Linked DNA regions of Homo sapiens. The protein of the gene in region 1 interacts with the protein of each later gene in a biochemical or structural test. Each region holds a gene or a part of one and is shown in the gene's direction. Other genes may lie near its edges.

The links.
Region 2: the proteins of CD2 (region 1) and PSTPIP1 form a complex in vitro, tested with the Homo sapiens proteins (one study listed by BioGRID and IntAct).
Region 3: the proteins of CD2 (region 1) and CD48 form a complex in vitro, tested with the Homo sapiens proteins (one study listed by BioGRID).

The regions. Positions count from the first base shown.
Region 1 is NC_000001.11:116,749,663-116,758,000, forward strand, and holds the start of CD2 (T-cell surface antigen CD2 isoform 2 precursor), read left to right. Parts: upstream 1-4,767; 5' UTR 4,768-4,830; coding exon 4,831-4,891; intron 4,892-4,968; coding exon 4,969-5,289; intron 5,290-8,338. UniProt on the Homo sapiens protein: CD2 interacts with lymphocyte function-associated antigen CD58 (LFA-3) and CD48/BCM1 to mediate adhesion between T-cells and other cell types. CD2 is implicated in the triggering of T-cells, the cytoplasmic domain is implicated in the signaling function.
Region 2 is NC_000015.10:77,032,944-77,038,708, forward strand, and holds the end of PSTPIP1 (proline-serine-threonine phosphatase-interacting protein 1), read left to right. Parts: coding exon 1-9; intron 10-2,564; coding exon 2,565-2,620; intron 2,621-2,858; coding exon 2,859-2,992; intron 2,993-4,101; coding exon 4,102-4,233; 3' UTR 4,234-4,532; downstream 4,533-5,765. UniProt on the Homo sapiens protein: Involved in regulation of the actin cytoskeleton. May regulate WAS actin-bundling activity. Bridges the interaction between ABL1 and PTPN18 leading to ABL1 dephosphorylation.
Region 3 is NC_000001.11:160,708,090-160,716,400, reverse strand, and holds the start of CD48 (CD48 antigen isoform 1 precursor), read left to right. Parts: upstream 1-4,578; 5' UTR 4,579-4,637; coding exon 4,638-4,719; intron 4,720-5,912; exon of another isoform or gene 5,913-5,977; intron 5,978-8,311. UniProt on the Homo sapiens protein: Glycosylphosphatidylinositol (GPI)-anchored cell surface glycoprotein that interacts via its N-terminal immunoglobulin domain with cell surface receptors including CD244/2B4 or CD2 to regulate immune cell function and activation.

The DNA.
Region 1 (8,338 bases):
CATGCCTTTTTAACATATGGTTTTTTTTTGAGCAAAAGGCCATCATGAACCAGCAGAGGCAGTAAAAGCTTTAAAAACATGGCACAATATTTTTCTTTTGTAAAGAAAATTTACAATTTCTGAAGAAAATAGCCGTTTGTAAAAGGTATCTCCCTCTCCTGTATCAGGAAGAGGAGGACTCTTAACAACTCTTATCAATGGAGAAGGCATTGGCTTCAATCTGCATAACAAACCTTACTAAACACATCTTGTTGTTTGGCACACTTTTCCTGGTCATTGGGTAACTTGCCTCCCCAACCTAGAAGCCCCAAATCGCTTTTTCTTTGTTTAGTCTAATATACTCTATAAGTCCAAGTTCTAACATCCCTTTGGGTTACTCACCACTGGGTGCTCCCATGTTTATGAGGGATACACATCTTAATCAACTTCAATGTGCCTTTCCCTTCTTAACCTGTCTTTTCCCAGTCTGGTTTACAGGGCTCCAGCCAGAGAACCTAAGACAAGAAGAGGAAAAAGATTACTTTTCACCTCTCCTACAATTGGGACCTGTTTTTGTCATATTCCACAGCTTGTCTATATCATGATTTACTTAACCAATTTCCTTCTCTTAGACATTTAAATTGTTTCCAATTTTGTCTTTAAAATACTGCAGCATATAAATTTATAGCCAAGTCTAGTACATAGCCTTCATTATTTCCTTATGATAAAATCATCCTTGTGGATTTGTTAGAAATCCACAAATGTTTGATACTCTAATTCACACTGACAAATTGCCCACCAGAAACTATACCTACTTGCAATTCTCCTGGCCATATACAAGAATGCCCATTTACACCATCATCAACACTATGTTTTCATTTTTCAAATGAAGATGAAAAATGCATCTATGTTAAAACTGACATTTCTTTATTAATAAATAGAAATAAAATTTTTCTTTTGTGGATTGCTCCTTTTATGACTTTGACCCATTTTAGTTTTAAGGTGTCTATCTTTTCTATGTTTACAAGAAAAATTTAATACTAAAAATTTAATGTTGGCCAGGCACGGTGGCCCACACCTGTCATCCCAACACTTTGGGAGGCCAAGGTGGGAGGATCACTTGAGCCCAGGAGTTCAAGATGAGCCTGGGCAACATAGTGAGACCCCCCGTCTCTACAAAAAATAAAAAAATTAGCCAGGCATGGTGCCACATGTCTGTAGTCCCAGCTACTCAGGAGGCTGAAGCAGGAGGATCACTTGAGCTCAGGAGGTCAAGGCTGCAGTATGCTGTGGTGCTGTGGTCATACCACTGCACTCCATCTTGAGCAACAGAGCAAGACCCTGTCTCTAAAATTAAAAAAAAATTGTTATGCCTTTGTCATGTATCTTGCAAGTAATTTGCTCCTTTTAGTACGTTGTCTTTAATTTTTTTATGGCTTTTTACATAGAAAGTTTTCACATTTTACAGAGTCAAATCTACTGACCTCTTTCTTTTTCATTGTTTCTGCCCTTGAAGCCATGCTCATCACTCAGAATTGAATTAGTTTTAGAGGAGCAAAATTAATGTTTCAAATAGAGGAACAGAAAGCTGCTCTTCACATGCTCCATGAGGAAAGTGTGAGGAAGAGAGGACAAGCGCCCTCCAAAGCTGAGATGGGTCAGAGGATGGCTGGCGCCACCTTCTCTCCACCAGGCCTTGACACACTGGAGTTGGATGGCAGCTGGTGGGTCAGCCACTCACAAACAGGAAGCTCCATGCTGCTCCTCTGGGTTGGCGATACTTTTGAAAAAATACGTGTGCCCTAAGCATCCTTTCTTAAAAAGACATTTTTTATTAACAAAAAAGGTGCTTATTTCCAAAATTTTAAACTTCACAGAAATAAATAAAATGTGAAAGAAACATAAAATCCTGGGACCCCAATTCATTATGCCAAAAGGAAAAATTAAGCTGAAAGTTGAGTCACACAAGAAACTGCCTTTCCTTGAGTTCCTAAGCAGAGAGTTACAGATAAAAAGCTGCTGTCTCCACGGGTAGCTACTCTATGTTCACCTTATCTTAAGAAAGTGCCAATTTACTGAGCATGAGAAGAATACAAATTGACCATTCCCCTACCTACTTTTTTTCTCTTGCAACATATGGATTCAGTAATGTGACTGTACCCTCCCTCCTTCCCCTCTGGCCAGCTTTTCCCCTTAACTGAAGGTTTTGAAATAATCTTGAGAAAAAGGCACAAACCACAGATTTTTCCTGTGGTTCTGTGTTCCTTTTTGTCCCTAATGTTGATGAAATAAACTTCTAAATTGATTGAGATCTGTCTCAAATTCTTTTTGGTTTACAAAGGTAAGAAGTGAAAATTTCATTTCAGTTCTCTCACAATCTAATACCTGAAAGACAAGCACTGTAAAAAAATTCAGCATCAACCCTTTCAGGCTTTTTTCCAACACATACCTTAATAACAACATAGTATGCTATGGTATACTGGTATACCCATAGCATAGTATAAACATAGTATCATATATAAAAAGGACTAATCCTATAGATATTGTTTTGCAATGTGCTCTTTTCATGTGATTTACCAAAAGCATCTTTCCATGTCTTACTTTTAGGCCTATGTTATACTATTTTGATGGTTATACAATATTTCATAATATGGATATACCATAATTTTAGTTGTTTGCAATTTTTTATTACAAAAATGCTACAACAAACGTCCTTGAACAGAATTTTAAAACATCTGTGCAATCATTTCTGTGGGATAGATTTCTCAAATTAAAATCACTAGGTGAGAAAAAGACATAAATTTTAAAGTTTGGTGGAAATGATAAATTCCTTTCCCCAGAAGGTATTGATTTACATTCCCTCTGATGTTGTATGAGGGTTCATTTCTCCACACACTCATGTTAATAATGTAAATTATCATCTTTTCTAATTTTACCAATCTGATGGTGAAAAATGGTATTTTATAGCTAAGATATATACATATATTTTTGGTCACATTAGACTCCTCTTGTAGGTTTGATATTTCTTCTGCGAAATATTTCTTCTGCAAGCTGATCATTTATATCATTTGCCCATTTTAAAAACTACTTTGTATTGATTGGTAAGAATTATTGGTAAGAATATTTTGAATATTAATAATTTTATATATATTGCAAATATTTTGTCACGCCTTTTCATTTTGTTCCTTATTTCTTCATCTGCATGTAAATCTTACTTCTTTATATCATCAGTTGTGTTCATCTTTTCTTTCTTACTTTGGATTATATGTTATATGTAGCCAGGCCTTCCATACTCAAACTATAGGAATATCTTTCTATATTGTCCTTTTAGCATTATTGTTATTATTTTATTTATTTAGTTATTTATTTTGAGACAGAGTCTCACTCTGCTCCCCAGGCTGGAGTGCAGTGGCACAATCCTGGCTCACTGCAACCTCCGCTTCCCAGATTCAAGCAATTTGCCTGCCTCAGCCTCCTGAGTAGCTGGGATTACAGGCGCACATCACCACACCTGGCTAATTTTTGTATTTTTAGTAGAGATGGGTTTCACCATGTTGGCCAGGCTGGTCTTGAACTCCTGACCTCAGGTGAGGAGGTCCGCCTCGACCTCCCAGAGTGCTGGGATTATAGCTGTGATCCACCACCCCCGGCCTCCTTTTAGCATTATTATAGTATTTTTGCATTTAAAACTTTAATCCAACTGTAGTTCATTATTGTGGATGACGCTCATACAACCATGAGGTAAATATTTGGCTTTCTTTTACCCAGTAACAGCAAACAACTGCTTTGACTTAATTTCATTTCCTTGGCAACTTTCTGACAGATAATATCCATATTTGTACTTAAAGTTGAAAAAGAAAACGAGCACCACTTTTGCAATTTTTACTCACTGTGACCTAAAGAATTATAACCCTGAAAATGTGCTTTGGAAGTCTGTCATGGTTATTTCTCTTTTTAGGCATCTTTTCAGGGCACACCCGTCTCTGCATCACTGTCTGTTTCCTTGTGTCACAAATTTCTGTTCTTTTTTTCTCTCCCTGTTCCCTCTCATTTATTTTTTCTCCTAATCTCTCCTTTTTCTTAACCACCTATAATGTTAATCACTTTAAATGCTTTTGACTCCTTTGTTTTGGTAGTTTAATTATATTTCATAGTCTCTATGCTTCTTTGTTTTGGAATAAGTTTTTATTTATCTAACTGTGAATTTCACTAGAGTTGTAAAATGTATGCCGAACATAGGATTTGGGGATTGCAAGCATTTACAGCTGATATTCAATTTCTTTCTTTTCACCACAAAAACGATTTTAGAACATGAAAAATATCTTTGGAGAAACAAAAAAATCAATTTCCTCATCATTTTATGGGTCTACATTTTTCAATATAATCATATGGGATAAATGTTTGCATTCTGCTATTGGCTTGTGAACATTTACCTATATTTCTATGTGGTCTTGTTAGGGACAGTATACCTAAGTGGATAAAAGGCTGTGTGGTTGAATTTGGCTTCTTGTTTACAAAAGAGTGATCCTTAGTGATCTACTTAGCCTCTCTGTTCCTTTTCTCTTTCACTGAGATGAGAAAACCTATCCTTCCCAATTTTTTTGTGTGAGAATTAAAATGCAGCAAGAAAACACACACTCATAAACACATCTGCTTTGGCAAAGGAGCACATCAGAAGGGCTGGCTTGTGCGCGCTCTTGCTCTCTGTGTATGTGTATTATGTTTTATGTTACTGTAAAAGATGTAAAGAGAGGCACGTGGTTAAGCTCTCGGGGTGTGGACTCCACCAGTCTCACTTCAGTTCCTTTTGCATGAAGAGCTCAGAATCAAAAGAGGAAACCAACCCCTAAGATGAGCTTTCCATGTAAATTTGTAGCCAGCTTCCTTCTGATTTTCAATGTTTCTTCCAAAGGTAAGCATAAGAGTCAAAGAAGTCCCAACCCAGCTTTCCCTGAAAGTGACTCTCAGTAACTCTTTTGCTTTTTATAGGTGCAGTCTCCAAAGAGATTACGAATGCCTTGGAAACCTGGGGTGCCTTGGGTCAGGACATCAACTTGGACATTCCTAGTTTTCAAATGAGTGATGATATTGACGATATAAAATGGGAAAAAACTTCAGACAAGAAAAAGATTGCACAATTCAGAAAAGAGAAAGAGACTTTCAAGGAAAAAGATACATATAAGCTATTTAAAAATGGAACTCTGAAAATTAAGCATCTGAAGACCGATGATCAGGATATCTACAAGGTATCAATATATGATACAAAAGGAAAAAATGTGTTGGAAAAAATATTTGATTTGAAGATTCAAGGTAAGTGTTCATTCCCTTAATTGCTTTATTTCAGTGTGGGTGCTATTTGGCAAGTTGGAAAATAGCATTTCTAATATTCCCCAGCGCTGACCTCTGCCTCCAGGGGGGCTATACAGGAAACCAGATGCATGTCTCCTGCCCCAGTGGAGACTGTGGTCCAATGCGGGAATGGGATCCACACATCTGATAGACCCTCAAGTCTACCTGCCTACAACTCTGTCTTCAGGTGGTTACAGGAATGTGGGGTTGGGTGAAGAACCTGGATTAAGGTGGCATTAATCGGGAGGGGGACACAGGTAGGCCGAGGGAAAAGGCAACTGTTCCAGGTTGCTGATGAATCGGCGAGCTAAGAGTGGGGCGAGAAGAAGAGGCTGACTGGAGAGCAGCGGGCCTTTCATCGACAGAGCCCATTTCAAGCCAGGCTGCCCTGAAGGAGGAGTTATATGGCAGAAAAGGGCTGGAAACAACATATTTAAGGATGAACAGCCCTTATTTTGGATCTGCTTGTCAGAGTGATACAAGGTGGCAGGTGATTTTTGCTGATATGTGTAGAAGATGCACAAGGTGTGGCTTTGTATATCTCTGCCTGTACTGGGAGGACAGGAGTGGATATTGAGGATGGGGTTAGGGAGACTAGTTAGAAAGCTGCTGCTGTAATCCAAGTGGAGTGAGGACCAATTAAATCAGATTTTTTTTGCATGCGGCCTGGGTATCATTAGGTTCTAAAGCTCCCTGGGGGATTCTAATGAGCTGCCAAAGTCAATCGCCACTGGCCTAGACCAAAGGGTGCCTCTAAAATAGGAAGAATGAGGATAATAAGGGTCAGGCATAGAGAAAGGTGGCTTAGGCAAGGGAGAGAAGGTAGAGAAAGTGGAATCGAAATGCCATTGAAGTTGAAAGCCCGGGGGGATGCTGGGGAAGTAGTGACAAGAAGGGAAAAGAAGAAGCTGCGCTTGACTTGGGGAGGCAGACAGGAACCCCAGCATGAGCACAGGCCAGCCATTCAGTGAGCAAATAAGCATTTCTGTGCTTCACACAGAAAATATCACCAGAAGCAGGGACCCCACCTTCTTCCTCTCTGTCTCCAGCCCCATCTTCAGCACCTGGGCCTACCAGCAATCCCAGATAGTGTCAGATTGCCCACTCCAGCAATCCCAGACACTGTCAGCTCCCCTGAAGTGACAACTTTCCACACCCTAGTCCTGCAACCTTGAGTGGAGAGCACCTTGTAGAAATGTAGTGGGGTTGAGCATGGCGCTGAAAAGGGCCTCTGATTATGGGCTCTGGAAACCACAGATCTCAGGACTCCAAACAGCACAAAACTCGAGTGTCCTGTTTTGAGTGTGAGCCCTACGCGGGGGACCATGCTGGTGTTTTCACATTTGGGTCGCATTTAGCATTGCGGCGGAAATAATGGCTACCAGTTAGGGGTCAAGTGCTTGCTTACATGATCTTATTTAAAGCGCCCAACAATACTGAGACCTAGTTGTTATTATCTCCTTGTTATATATAAGAAAACAGAGACCTAGTCAGAAGCAGCTTGTCCAAGGTCTCATTGCTTGACAGGAGCAAAGTCAGGATTCAAACTCAGAGGTCTTTTTGGCAAGAATGACGACCTTTTCTTTTTTTTTCCAAGCAGCTTCATTGAGATAATTCATCTACCATTCAATTTGTCCATATACTAAAATGGCCTTCAGTATATTCAGAGTTTTGTAACCATCACCACAATCAACATTTTCATTGCCCCAAAAAGAAACCCTTCACCCTTTAGCCGAAAGACAGTGACTTGCTTTATGTGTGTGCACGTCAATGTCATACAACATCTTGATTCAACTTGTAGTTGGTCACTATTACCAGACTTAAGGTGACCATGGCCTTGGGCAAATTCCCTATCTGCTGTGAGTCTGCTTTTCCAATGACAACTTCAAGGGATATTCAGTGAGACAAGGTGTGTACAAGTGTCCTGCAGTGCCTGGGGCACAATGCCTGTTTTCTCAGTGCTAATGCCCTCCCACATCTCTTTGTTTCTCCAAGCTTCTCTTTTTTTTTTTTTTTTTTTAATTGAGATGGCATCTTGCTCTGTTGCCCAGGCTGGAGTGCACTGGCATGATCTCAGCTCACTGCAGCCTCTGCCTCCCAGGTTCAAGCGATTCTCCTGCCTCAGCCTCCCAAGTAGCTGGGATTACAGGCATGTACCACCACGTCCGGCTAATTTTTGTATTTTTAGTAGAGACGGGGTTTCGCCATGTTGGTCAGGCTGGTCTCAAACTCCTGACCTCAGGGGATCCGCCTGCATCGGCCTCCCAAAGTGCTGGGATTACAGGTGTGAACCACGCACCCGGCCTCCAAACTTCTCAAACTCCAGTAGTTGTGCCTGCATTTCCTTCATGAGGGAGTTGCTGCTGCAGGCTGAAGAGGCAATGGAGGGCCCCTTAGAAGCAGATGCTAGTAGGGAAGGGGTTAATCCCAGCAACTCAGAATTAAGGAGTTCTCATCCATGGAAGGCCTTAGGTTGGATCAGTTCTAAGACGCTATCTTAGTGAATGTATACGGAGGTACTACTCCACAAGGGTGCCCATCACTGCATTATTCATGTTAGCGAAATACTAGAACAGTCAGCAGTTAGAAACTTATTAATCAGTTAAATTAAGAATGCATCCTTTAAAAAGATGCATATATGCATTTATTGATGTTCATTAAGAAAAGAACTTCATAATATAATTTCACAATAAAGGGGAAAAGGCAGACTGTAAGATCACATAAATTAGTTTTAATTTTTAAAATATTACATATATATATATAGAGAGAGAGAGAGAGAGAGAGAGGCAGACAGAAAGAGACAGGGTCTCACTCTGTCGTCCAGCCTGGAGTGCAGTGGTGAAATATTGGCTCACTGCAGCCTCTGCCTCTTGGGTTCAAGCAATTCTCATGCCTCAGCCTCCTGAGTAGTTTGGATTAGAGGCGCATGCCAACACACCTGGCTAATCTTCATATTTTTAGTAGAGATGTATTTCACCATGTTGGCCAGGCTACTCTTGAACTCCTGGCC
Region 2 (5,765 bases), on another chromosome or scaffold:
GATAAAGAGGTGAGGCCCCGACAGACGGAGGGAGGGCCTAAGGCTGGGCCAGGAAGTGGGTCGAGCCCCTCCTCTGCACCTGGCCCTTCCTCGTTCACTGAGCACCTACTATGTGTCTGTATCTGGTGCCCAGTTTAGGTGCTGGGCACTCTGTGGAGACAAGATAGGCTCAGTTCAGCCTATGGAACCCTCAGCCCAAGGGACCCAGACACTAGAATAATCACACCCCAATTATTCACTAGGGGAGGTGCTCCGAGCTCTGGGGAGGCCCCTATGCTGGCTTCCTTGTCCCTGGGGCCTCATGTGAGCCTGGTGCCCTGTCAGGCTGCAGTGGCAACGCTGTCTGGCTGGAGCAGGACTGGGGCATCTGGAGAATTCTCCAGGCTTTTCCAGGGCTCCTTCCCCGGCCTGGCTGCAGTCAAGTGCCAAGGTCCTAGTGCTGGGCCTCAATGTGTGACCTGGGCAAGTCATTCACACTCTCTAAGGCCAGGGCCCTGAGTGTTGGGGTCAGATTCAGAATCTAAGGACTCTCCTGGTTCAGGCCTTGAGTGACGAAGGTGACAGCCCATTGGGAGCACTATAGCCAGCTTAGGGAGCCCTCGTAGCCAGGCCTTTGAGGGAGGCCATGTGCCCTGTGAGCATCCACAAGGGTCTGTGGGTTTCACATGGTGCCTGTGCCCCCACCGCCATGCCACCACTCTTCAGCCACCCTTCAACCAAGAAGGCCCTGCCTCTGGGAGGTAGTGGACTGTGGGGAGAGGCTGATGCAGTTCCCGGCCCTTCCCAAGGACCAGCTCATTCCAGGGCCTCAGGAGCCCCTGGAACTTCCTACTCCTGGGAGGCAGAGGCTCGTGGGAACCACCCGTGCTTAGAGAGGGCACACACACACCCTCTTTGAGAATCTTGTGCAAGCAGTGACCCCAGGAGGCAGCACACCCGCAGCCTCACATGCTACAAAAGCTTGTGAGACAGGCTTCCCTGTGCCTGGTGAGGACCTGGATCCCAGCAAAGGTGGTCATTTAAGCAACTGGACAAAAGAGCTCACCTGAAGCAGTATCAGGAAGGGGCAGAAAGGAGTGGCCCCAGAGAGGATTAGAGAGAGAGAGAGAGATGTCCTGCAGGGCCGAGGGAGGCCTGGCTGCTGGAGGGGGCTGGTCAGGCCTCTGGATGGGGCATCTAGAAGCCAGGCAGGACTGGGAAGAGGCGGGGGTCAGTGACTGGGAGTCAGAAGTGTAGACAGTCTGGGGAAAAGAGGTGTGGGGGCACGCAGCACAATGGCTCAGCAAGCCCTGCACCCCTTTCCCCCTGCCCTGGCCGCTTCCTCCACCTGTCCCCAGCCCCTGCTGGCTTGCACCCTGTCCTTTGCTGCCTGGGGAGCTGGCACGTGTGTCTGCCCGCCTGTGTTGGTGTCAGGCCCTCCCATGTGCTGGGTCCACGCATGTCCACCCTGCGCATGTGTGTGCACTCCTGGGGCCTTGGCCCTCGGCGCCTCATGTGGGAAAGGCCCCCCACATGCCACCTTGAATTGCAGGGCTGCCCCCCACAGGCCCCTGAGTCATGGCTCAGCCCCTCACCTGCATTCAAGATCCCTCAGGGTCTGGTCCAGTCTCTATTTCAGTCCTGTCCCCCACACACCCAAATTGGTCCACTCCACTCCACAAACCCCACCTGTGCCATGCCTCCTCCCCTGCACCTGAGCCCTCCCTCTCCTGGTCACCTGCAGTGCCTCGCTCCCCCTTCTCTCCTAGTAAAGCTTCACTCATCTTTGAAGACTCAGCCCCACCCCACTAAGAAGCCCTCTTGCCTTGGAGGCAGTGTCAGCCTCTACTTGTTGAGCCCTCACTACTGCCCACTTCAGGGGGTGCCCCCAGCATCTGCCGCATCTGCCTCTTCTGTTTTATTTTCCTTTATTCAGTAAACCTTCATGACCCCAGCTCAGTCCAGGCCTAAGCCTGGTGCAGGGGCAGGGGTAAAGTAGCCCAGCGCTGTCCCGGAACTCCTGTGAACAGGGTGGCTGAGCTGGCCTGATCACCGTGGGCCCACAGGGAGGAGGGCTGGCTCGGCCCAGGCAGTGGAGGCCTCAGCAGGGCACGTGAGCCAGGCTTTGTGTGGCAGTGCACCCCCCACCCCTACCCATGGGGGAAGCTGCTAGGGCAAGCTAGAGCAGGGGCCTGGAGGGTGAGGACTGGGCATCTTCCCACGAGGCCTCAGTGCGGAGGTCCTAGAACCCCCAAAGGGCCATGGGAGTCTTCCAATGAAGCTACAGCTTCGGGGGTTCTAGGATCCTCCCAAGGGCCCTGCAGGGAGCAGGTGCTGAGATGGCCTGCAGAGGGCGCCAGTGGAGGGCGTAGCTGGGGAAGGAGGAGCCACCAGGACTACTTTCTGGGGAGCCCTCCTGCCTGAGGGGCACCTCATAAATGACATCCATGCCTGGAGGCTAGGGGCAGTCCCAGCCCTGGCAGAGCGCGTGCAGCTCTGAGACCTCTCCCTGTCTAAACCCTCCCTCCTGGTGGGTCCCTGAGTGTGGGGCGGGGACACTCACCCTCTTTCCTCCCTGTTCCCAGGTTCTCTGGACTGCTGCACGGAAGTCCCAAGACCACTTCGTTGGCAGCTTCTGCTGGTAAAGGGGGTCAGGAGGGGACCCCCAAACACACTGATCCTGGGGGGGAGGAGAGGTCTCCCACATGGCACAGATGGGGCCACTGAGGCCCTCAAGAGGAAGTGTGTGTCCCCCAACAGCAAGTGTGGACAGCAGAAGGAAGAGGCAGGGCCCAGCATGGAGAAACCCCATTCTAGTAGGACTTCCAGGGGCCAGTGTCCCCAGAAGGGGAGGGGTCTATGTCTCACCCTGCTCTTAGCGTCCACAGAGACCCTGACCCCCACCCCCGAGCGGAATGAGGGTGTCTACACAGCCATCGCAGTGCAGGAGATACAGGGAAACCCGGCCTCACCAGCCCAGGAGTACCGGGCGCTCTACGATTATACAGCGCAGGTGAGGCCTCTATACCCCAAACCCACCTGTGCCACCTCCCCTGCACCTGAGAGCTCCCTCTCCCATCCAGTGCCTTGCGTCCTCATCTCTCCTCATGGTTTCACTCATCTTCGAGCATCCTCTCCTCCTCAGGAGGGCACGTGTGCCCGAGTGTGTCCACACTAGCAAGGGTACCTGGGAGTGTGCTTGGATGTGAGCTCTGAGAACAGCACCCAGGGCTTGCGGGGCCTCAGTGTGCATGTACTGACTGGAAGCTGGTGTGCAGCAGGCCTGTGTCTGCCCGGGCCTGTACACAGCACACACGTGGAGCACATGTACCTATGCCGTCCACACAGGCTGGGCGCTGAGTGGTGCACACGTGCGGGGAGCTGGCAGAGCCTGGAGCTGCCTGCAGGTCATAGCTTGAGGGCCAGGCTCTGTGCCTTTGGGTCAGGGCCCTGTCCTTCGTGGCCATGGGTGTGGAAAACTGTGGCCAGAATGAGTCTTGCTATCGTGCCAGGATTGATTTTCTGATGTCCATAGGGTGAGGATGAACCAAGGCAGCCACAGGGCAGCTATGAGAGTCCTTTCTGCTCCCTGCTTGAGGGGAAGAATGCATAGCCAGACCTCACATCCACCTGGACTGAGGCCAAGCACCCCCACATAGCCAGGCAGGCTGGGTGTGGACTCCACTGATGAGGCCAGGGCTCGGGGAGGCAGGGAAGCCAGGCCAGGAGAGTGATGGGGTACTTGGATGGCAGTGGCTAGCTGGGGCTGGGGACCGCAAAGGGGAGGCTTGTGGTAAGCTTAGGCATGAGTGTGCCCTGGGCTTGGGGTATGATGAGCACCCGTGACCCCTGACATGCTCCAGTCACTGCGTCTCCAGAATGGGAGAGGGGAGGTGAGGCTGGGAAGAAACCCAGGTTGGGGGAGAACTATGATGACAAACTGAGGGGGATGGGAGGCCCGGTCCGTTGGGTTACCCCCATCCTGTGTCCCCAAGGGGCTGCCCCTGCCCACCCTGGGAGACATGCCGCATTTACTGCTGGGTGGGGGAACGCCAGGCCCCTCCCTGCAGGCCCTTCCCTGCAGGCCCTTCCAACGTCATGCGCTTTCAATCTCTTGGCCAGAACCCAGATGAGCTGGACCTGTCCGCGGGAGACATCCTGGAGGTGATCCTGGAAGGGGAGGATGGCTGGTGGACTGTGGAGAGGAACGGGCAGCGTGGCTTCGTCCCTGGTTCCTACCTGGAGAAGCTTTGAGGAAGGGCCAGGAGCCCCTTCGGACCTGCCCTGCCAGTGGAGCCAGCAGTGCCCCCAGCACTGTCCCCACCTTGCTAGGGCCCAGAACCAAGCGTCCCCCAGCCCCGAGAGGGAGCCTGTCGTCTCCCAGGGAATAAAGGAGTGCGTTCTGTTCTCCTTGGTGTGCTGGGGTCCCGTTCTCTTTTTCTCCTGCTCCAGTGTCCGAGTGCTCAGTTCAGAGGAGGCAAAGGAACAAGGGAAGGAGCCTGGATGTGGAGCTCCCCAACTCAGCCGAGGCTTCAGCTATAGTTGGAGAAGAGGCCTGGCCCCAGTTGCTAGGAGCTCCCAGACTGCCAAGGAGACACATTCACACCTGGACAGAGGACACAGGGGTGCAGGAGGATGTGGCAGGGGCAAGAAGGGGCTCAGCAGGGCTGCAATGGGGAGAGCAGGCTTCTTGGGGGCGGAGGGTTGAGCAGGTCCATGGCTGGGCAGCAGTGGCCAGGCCAGGGCAAGTGCGTGGGCAAAGGTGAGGTTGGGGGTACACCCAGGAATATTCGGAGGACTCAGTTTGGAAACAGGAAGCTGGTGATGGATCTGTTGGAGAGGCCATGGTGGGAGCCCAGGAAGACAGGCTTGTGGCTTGTGGGTGCAAGTGGGGCCTGGGGAAGCCACTGCTGCCCATGACACTCCCCTCAACATGGCAACCCCGGCCGAGCAGGGGTCCACAGCCCAGGCACGTTGGCCCCGGGCACAGAGGGAGCTGTTCTTGAAGGCCTTCAGCCCCTTCTCTTTTTAGTCCCAGGAACATAACTTTCACTGCTGGCCAAGCCCTGCTCCAACCATGATAGGCTTCATCCATGCCAAAGGCATTGGGAGTGGGTGTGGAGGAGAGGGCCCCTGGCCATTGACCACTCCTCAGTCCTGGGAGTGGCCAAGCCGGCCCACCTCACACCCTCCTGGGATCCCCACCCGGCTTCGGAGCCAGGCAGGCCCAGGACTGTAAGGGGCGGGATGGGGGACACAGTGGTCCTCCTCTGCTGGGACCACACTGATGAGCTGCTGCAGGGCACTGCTGTTCCCCATGGGGAGGGGGGAGAGAGAAAGGAGGGAGGGGGGAGAGAGAGAAAGGAGGGAGGGGGGGAGAGAGAGAGAGAGAAAGGAGGGGGAGAAAGGAGGGAGGGGGAGAGAGAGAGAAAGGAGGGAGGGGGAGAGAGAGAGAAAGGAGGGAGGGGGAGAGAGACAGAATGCCCATCTTTATACCCTGATCTTTACTTGAGCAAAAAATTGGGTTCAGTTAAGCAAGCATGAGACATGGACATTCTAATGACTCATGTGTGGCCCACACTGTACCTGATGATGGGGGTGTGGTGCTAAAAGGGGCCTCAAAGAGCTCACTCAGCCCAGGAGGACAGACAGCCACCCTCTAGGCCCTGAGATGTGAGGCAGTAAGTGGGGGGAGTGGTTCCAGGGGCTGGTGCAGGCCATCCAGCAGAGGGGAGGGTGGCTTGTCTGGGAAGTGGTGACTGGGCTGGAGAGCAACTCTGGAAGAA
Region 3 (8,311 bases), about 44 Mb from region 1:
TTAGCAAAATGCCCTTGGGCAAGCCATTTGACTTGTCTGAACCTCAGTTATCTCTTCCGTAAAATAAGAATAGTGTTTATAAATATCCTCATGTGAATGTTGGAGGATTATTATTTTGTTGTTTTGTTGTTGTTTTTGTTTTTGAAACCTGATCCTTCTGTAAAATGTTGGAGGATTAAATGAGATAATATAGGCAAAGGTCCTGGCAAGTACTTGACTTAGTAGATACACAGAAAATAATAGCTTCTGTCATTACTATCACTTTGTCAAAGTCAAGCAGTAGGTCAAGTGCCCACCAGATTAGATACTGAGAAGAGTGTGTATTTTAATTCACATCATGAGGATTGTTGACCTGTACTTCATCTTCTAGGGTCTTTGCAGCCCCACCTCTGGGTATGCCCAAACTTCAGGGATTTCTGCAACCAGGGCTTTGGTGCAAGAACAGCTGATTCACTTAGGGCAGGGAGAGGGCTTTTGAGCCTTTATTGGTCACTTCTCTCAGACTTGTTTTTGAATCTATGCAGAAGCCTAACTAGCTAGTCCTGAACCTCAGAATGGGCACCCATAGTACTTCAGTGCCCGCTGTTACCATGCAAAAGGAGGAAGATTCCTTGGCTTAAGTTTATATTTCATCCTTTGTTTTAACATCAGCCTATATCCCATGGCTATTAATTCACATCTAAGCAGACTGTTGAGAATTATAGAGCTGTTTACTTGTCAATCTAAAAGAAAGAGGCTGAAACACAAAATATGATTTGAAGACTTTACTTGAGCCAAAGGGAGGACAGCTGCCTGGAAGACTCAGACCCAAGTAAAATTGGTTTTGAGCTCTGCTCAGCCTTTGTTACAAGCAGGTTTTTAAAGGCAAAAAAAGTGATACAAAGTTTTTTTTTTGGAATTCTCATTGGTTTGCAGAAATAACATTAATTAGTGATTGGTTACATATTGTTAAGCTGTAAGGTGTGGGTTATATGTCCAGTGCAGCATTATTAGATTAATTTATGGTTACTTGCAGCAATAGCAAGTAGTTTTAAGAGGTGAATACATAGCCCAAAGGTGGAGTAGGGGGAAGTAAAATGTGATTTCTGTCTCATTTAAATGTCTCTCTGATAATTTGAAGGACTCACATTCTTCAGATAAAAGTTCTTTCCTTTCTTCAACTTTTCACAACAACATTCAAAGGAGGTATTTTAACATTTATTTTTATTTTTACTTTTAGTAGAGATGGGGTTTTGCCATGTTGCCCAGGCTGCTCTCAAACTCCTGAGCTCAGGCAATCTGCCCTCCTCGGCCTCCCAAAGTGATAGCGACAGGAGACAGACAAATTCCTGGACAGATAGAAAAGGGTCCCTGGTGAAACTAGACTTTCAAGACAAAGACAGTTTAAAGCCTGAAAACTGGGCTGCCAGTTCTGGGTAGAGTCCACAACCAGAGTGAGAACTTCCTTGATACCTTTTAGCTAATCGAATGGTGCTTTTTCCAGGCCTGCCTATGGACAAATCTGAGCCGATGAAAACCCCAGACTCAGCCTCACAGAGGGCTACCTGTTTTGGGGCCCCTCTCACACAGTGGTCTACCCACTGTCTGGTCCCCTCTTTGCTGAGAGCTTTCCTTCTGTCACTCAATAAAATTATTCTCTGACCTACTCACTCTCCTTTGTCTGCATGCTTTATTCCTCTTGGTTGCAGGACAAGAACCCAGGACCTGCTGAGCTGCAGGTGGCAGGAACAAGCTGTAACATACCCGTATTTGCTGAGCTGTGGGCACTGGGACCAAGTGAGAGCTGTGACACACCCCCATTCACTGAACTGCAGGCAGCAAGACTAAATAAGAGCTGTGACATGCCCCCATTTGCTGAGCTGCAGGCAGTGGGACTGAACAAGAGCTGTGAGGTGCCCTCATTTGCTGAGCTGCAGGTGGCAGGAACAAGCTGTAACATACCCGTATTTGCTGAGCTGTGGGCACTGGGACCAAGTGAGAGCTGTGACACACCCCCATTCACTGAACTGCAGGCAGCAAGACTAAATAAGAGCTGTGACATGCCCCCATTTGCTGAGCTGCAGGCAGTGGGACTGAACAAGAGCTGTGAGGTGCCCTCATTTGCTGAGCTGCAGGTGGCAGGAACGAGAGAGAGAGCTGTAACATTTCTTGGGGTCTCAGGCCTTGGGATTCCCCAAGCAAAGCTGTAACACCCCTTAGGGCTCCGCAGTTGCTGGCATCTCCGAGTTTCTTAGTGCCACTGTGTTCCCTTCATTTAGACACTGGTGCCCAAGGTGGAAGCAGGTCACAGCACTCCCCGTCCTGCCACTGACTGAGTGTGGATCCTATGGCTCAGGAGTTCAAGACTGGCCTGGGCAACATGGTGAGACCTCATCTCTACAAAAAATTTTAAAAAAATAGCCATGCATAGTGGTCACTGTACTCCAGACTGGGTGACAGAGTGGGAGCCTGTGCCCCCCTCCCCCCAAAAAAGAGAATGTAACATTAATTTACAGGGTCTCTTTTAAAAATCTAATACAATGTTATCTTTTCTTGCTGAAGGAGCAGGGTCGTATCCTAAGGTTAAATCAATTTATAGGAAAAATATAACACACAGTTCCAAAGTGTAACAATTTGACCAAGAGGAATTTGATTCTGGTGCTGTTTCAAATTTTATTTGCAGGGTTCTTTCTTTTCACTTTTATGTTTTTTTCCCTTTTATTTTTAGTTGACATATAATAATTATACATATTTATGGGATACAGAGTAATATTTTGATACATGTATTCAATGTGTGATGATCAAATCAAAGCAATTAGGATACCTATCACCTCAAACATTGATCATTTCTTTGTGTTGGGAACATTCCAAATCCTCTCTTCTAGCTTTTTGAACATATACATTAAATTATTCTTAACTGTATTCACTCCATAGTGCTACAGGATGCTGGAACTTATTCCTCTTCTCTAGCTGTAACTTTGTATCTATTAACCAACTTCTTCCCATCCTCCACTTCCCTCTACCCTTCCCAGCCTCTGATAACCACAATTTTACTCTCTACTTCTATGAGCTCATTTTTTAAGCTTCCATATATGATTGGGAACGTGGTTTTTTATCTTTCTGTGCATGACTTATTTCACTTAACATAATGTCCTTCAGGTTTGAGGACTGAGAAGAGCAGACATTTTATTGTTCATCTCCATGTTGAGAATCAGAAATGTCCCCAATTAAAAAGTGATTACAAATATGTTATATCAGGAACTGTGGCTTGCCTGTGGGTCCTGGGTGGGCAAATAACTAATTTACATTCAATAGGAATGAGCTTGAAATTTCCTAGACATGATATGATTTGGCTGTGTTCCCTTCCAAATCTCATCTTGAATTGTAGTTCCCATAATCCCCACATATCATGGGAGCAACCCAGTAGGAAGTAAGTTAATCATACGAGCAGTTACCATCATGCTGTTCTCGTGATAGTGAGTTCTCACTAGATCTGATGGTTTCATAAGGAAGGGGCTTTCCCCATTGCTGCTCAGTGCTTCTCTTTCCTGCCACCGTGTGAAGAAGGACGTATTGGCTTCCCCTTGCACCATGATTGTAGGTTTCCTGAGGCTTCCCAAGCCATGCTGAACTAGAAGTCAATTTAACCACTTTCCTGGCCAGGCACAGGCCCATGCCTATAATCCCAGCACTTTGGGAGGCTGAGGCAGGTGGATCACTTGAGGTCAGGAGTTCAAGACCAGCCGGGCCAACATGGTGAAACCCTACTAAAAATACAAAAATTAGCTGGGCATGGTGGTGCTTGCCTGTAATCCCAGCTATGTAGGAGGCTGAGGCAGGAGAGTTGCTTGAACCTGTCAGGTGGAGGTTGCAGTGAGCTGAGATTGCACTGCTGCACTCCAGTCTGGGCTACAGAGTGAGACTGCATCTCAAAAAAAAAAAAAACCAAAACAAACAAAACAAAACAAAACCCCTCTCTTTCCTTTATAAATTACCCAGTCTGGGGTATGTCTTTATTAGCAGTGTGAGAACAGACTAATACAGACTACAAGGGTGGGAAATCCATTCTTTTGGGCCAAGTAATCTTACTTTTTTTCTGATGTTCAGTGGATAGGCTGATGTCAAACTTCAAATAGTGAATTATCATAAAGGAAGAAGAGCAGAGGGTGGTGCTGGGGGTAAGATATGCAGCACAAAGGCTACGTGGGTCTGATTTCCCAGACTTCAGGCTCTGAATGACACCTACCCAGGCTTGACTGGGAAGCTCCTATGTCTTAGCCCCTGAATTAATCAGAGGGATTCCTGCCTGGGAACGAAAAGCAGACATTCTCTATCAGGGTCCCTTATTCTTTTCTGAGTACTGGCCCCCCTGAGAGTACAGTAGAAGCTATGAATCTTCCCCCTACAAAAAAGCACTCATGTACCTTCAAACAAAATTGTTCTCAGTTTCCGTGATGCTCTTAGATAAAAAAATTTACAAGACCTCCGGTTTCTGGTTTCTGGGGCCCCACACAAGTGTGCTGGGTGGAGAGAAAATCTCAGTGGTTTTTTTTTTTTTCTCTCTAACCCTGTTTGGTAAGTTCCGTTTTTAGCCCCGGCCTTTTTCTAGCCAGGCTCTCAACTGTCTCCTGCGTTGCTGGGAAGTTCTGGAAGGAAGCATGTGCTCCAGAGGTTGGGATTCGTGTCTGGCTCTGGAATTGCTACTGCTGCCTCTGTCACTCCTGGTGACCAGCATTCAAGGTACTTTCCACCAACTGTGTATCTGTGATTGTGCACTGAAGGCATGGTCAGTTGGGAAAGGGGAGACGGGATGTAGTTCAACCCTAGAAGCCAGATCTGGTGTCTGGAAAGCAGGTATTTCCATTCCAATAGCATGGCCATGGCATGGTTGGGGAGCCTTTCTTAGCACTGATGAATGGAGCTTCATCTCCTTTCCCACGGGGATGTGATCAAAACAGGAACCTGGGGAGCAAGAGAAGTAGGCTCCTCATATTTTGTCCCGTGGTTGGTGGTCCATGAAGTTGTGGAAAAGTGTTTGTTTTTTCATTTTGAATAAGAAGAAGCTCTACACTGACAGCTGCTGCATTTTATGCTCAGACACACTGTACTCCCTTAGGCATTCTTTGAGACCTCTGTATATGTGAGGTGTTGCATCCTGAGCCAAGGTAAATGATATTGTCATTGACCCAAAGAAAAGATAGATCAAAATTATAGGAAGAAAAGCTTGGAAAGGATTGCTGTCTGGGGTCTCTGAATGAGGGTCTGAGAAGAGGCTGGAAGTGCTTCAGCATCAAAGGAACCTTAACACATCTGATTGCTAAGAGTTAAGGTCCATTCCTCTGCCACAGCCTGTTCGGTCCCCGGTGTGTGACCAAGGGCTGAGCTAACTTTCCTTCTCCTGTTAGAGCTGCCTCACCCTCTTTCTTCATCCAGTACCTCTCTTCTTATGCCAGCTGAGAAACAGCAGTGAAACCTTTGACTTTCTTGCTATTCCCCCAAGTAAATACTCAAGTCTTTTTAATTTAAAGGGCTTTAATGCTCACCACTCTGAGTAAAACAGTAAAAATCAACAAACATGTGGTAGTCACACTGTGGCATAAAATGATGATAGTTTGTAACTTTTGGGGAGATGAGGTAGAATGTGTGGAGGATCGGTCTCTCACATATTCTACCTCTCAGGTAGAGTCCTTTGGTTCATGACTGTGTGAGTCTACGGCTATATAGGTTCTGTGGGCCTGACTCAATGCATAGGACATTGGTATGACCTTGGGATTGGGGGCTGATGTGAAGTATTCATCTAACTATTGGGAAAAGCAGGGTTGCCAATGAGAATTGGAATATTTTAGGACTTTCTCTAGGCATACTGAAAACATCCTGACAGTTGACCTTTCTCTGACTTCTTTTCTAGGCTTCATCTTGGTCATTTATTCTTCTTTGAAACAATCAGACCACACCTGATTATGTTATCCTTTGAATGGATAATATTGGTTTTGATGAGGTTAGTAAACCTGGGTTATAACACCCGGGCTATAACCTGGGTTAGTAAAATACAAATTAAGCACTTACTGTGTGTCAGACATTGTGCTAGGCCTTTTGCATACTTTTTCATTTAACTTTCATTAGAAAATAGTGAGGTGGCTATTATTATCTACATTTTTCAGATGAGAATACTGTCTTGCAGAGAGATTAAGAAATTCTCCTAAGGGCACACAGGTCTAACTTCCAAACCATTCTATTATGATTATACCTTTCCTAGACTAAGGCGAGGGAATCTTGGTGAAGGTCAATGTGTCTAAATCTCTTAATTTTACTGTTTGCCTTAAAAGAGGCGTTTTCTCTTACCTCTGGGCTTATGTACATGCCTTCTTTCCACCTAGATTTCTCTCCCTCCTGCCCTCTCCCTGCCTCTCTTTTAGGCTTCTGTTTTTATGTGACTTCTTCTTGGACTGTCTGCCTGTGACTGTGTTCTGAAGGCATGGTTAGATGGGAACCTCAGGCTCCAGATTATGGTTTGTGAATTGCTTGGTGGATCATCTGTTTCCTTGAACTTTTTGAGGACAGAAACCATGTGCAGTGTTGTGCTGCTGAACTTAGCACAGGCCTGGAGTGTGGCATGTGCTCAATAAATAATTGTTACACAAATGAATGAACAACTTCAAAAAACTTCCTTTTGGACTACACATCCATATCTTCCTGAGAAGTGCAAGTAGTTCTCTCCTCTGCCGTAAGGGATGCTTCTGTGGAAAACTTTGAGAAGCACTCTTAGCTCTCTTCTTCCTTCTCTCCTCAGACTTGGGTTTCTCAGTTCTTTGGTTTCAAGGCAATGATTTAGGGCATGCTCCACAACTACCCAATTCCCCATCTGTCCACAACACTTAGCAGGATGAAGTAGACAGAGTATTGTACTAGAAATGAGATGACCTAGTTCTATCTGGGTTCCATGCTGTGGAATTTTCAACAAGTCATTAAAGCTTCCTGAGCCTCAGCTTCCTCAGCTCCATAATGGGTATAATAATCTGTTCCTCATTTCTTCAAGGGGTTGCTATTAAGATCAAATAAAATAAAAAATGTGCAATTGCTTTGCAATTGTGACACATGCGGAATCCGATACAGATGAAAACCTGGGAAGAGCATCAGTAAATTCTTAAGCCCCAAGCAGTCTCCTGAGCCCAAGATCAGAACTTCTGTCTCTTAAACATCTTCTCTAGACTCTCCAGACACGTGTCTAAAACTTAAGTCATCATCTCTGTTTCCGCTATGTATTGCTATTTAACAAGCTGCCACAATACCGTGGCTTAAAATAATAACAATGATTTACTTTGCCCACAGATTTGGGGGAAGACTGTTCATCCTGTCTCACTTTCATGTGCTTTTCATGTGCTTGCAATCAGATCATGGTGTGGCCTAGAGTCATGCAAGGCTCTTCACTCACAGGGCTACTGCCTGAACAGAGGGAGGCTCAAAGTGCTGGGTGGCTAGTGCCACTCAGCAGAAGCCTCCCAGAGTTGGTGTCCCAAGAGAAATAGGCAAATGCTGCATGGTCTTTTCTAAGCTAGCTTTGCAGGTCACACTTCCGGTGTATTCCATTCATTGAAGCCATCACCGAGCCTACTCAATTTCAAGGTGAAGGGGCACAAAGTCCATCATTTGATGAGAGGACCATCAAAAAATTTACAGACTTAAAAAAAAATACTACAATCCTTCTTCCCCCAAACCTACTGCTCCTCCACTGTTCCCCACCTCTATAAATGACATCTCCACTTGTCTAGTTGCTCAGGCCAGAATTCTAGGAGTCATCCTTGCTTCTTTTCTCTCCCTTGCTTCTCATGCCCAATGAGTAAGTCCTGTTAATTCTACTTTCAAAAATATCTCTCAAATATGTCCAATTCCATCCAGCCCCATGCTACCTATCTCAGATCAAGCCACCATTTTCTCTTATCACCAATTTCCACAATGATCCACTATCCTAACTGCTCTATTTACTGCATTCTCTCTAGCTAACCTGTTCTCTACCCTGCTGTCGGTATACATTTTCTAAAATGGTTCTCTGTTTGCATCACTCTTCTGCTTAAAATCTTTAGTGGCCACTGTGGGAAATGAGAAAGCAGAAGCTGTGAGCCTAAAGTTCACATTTCATAATGAGCTCACTTGCTACCCTCCTTAGTCTATGTCCTAGCCAGTGAGCTACTTCCTACTCCGCAAATGAATTTCATTTTTGTGTTTCTGGGCGTTTGATTCTTTTTCCCTCTTGTTGGAATATTCACTACCCCCAGTCGTCATCTTTCCCTGGTTTCATCCCACTTAGGCTAATTCCTCGTACAGAAGCCATTCT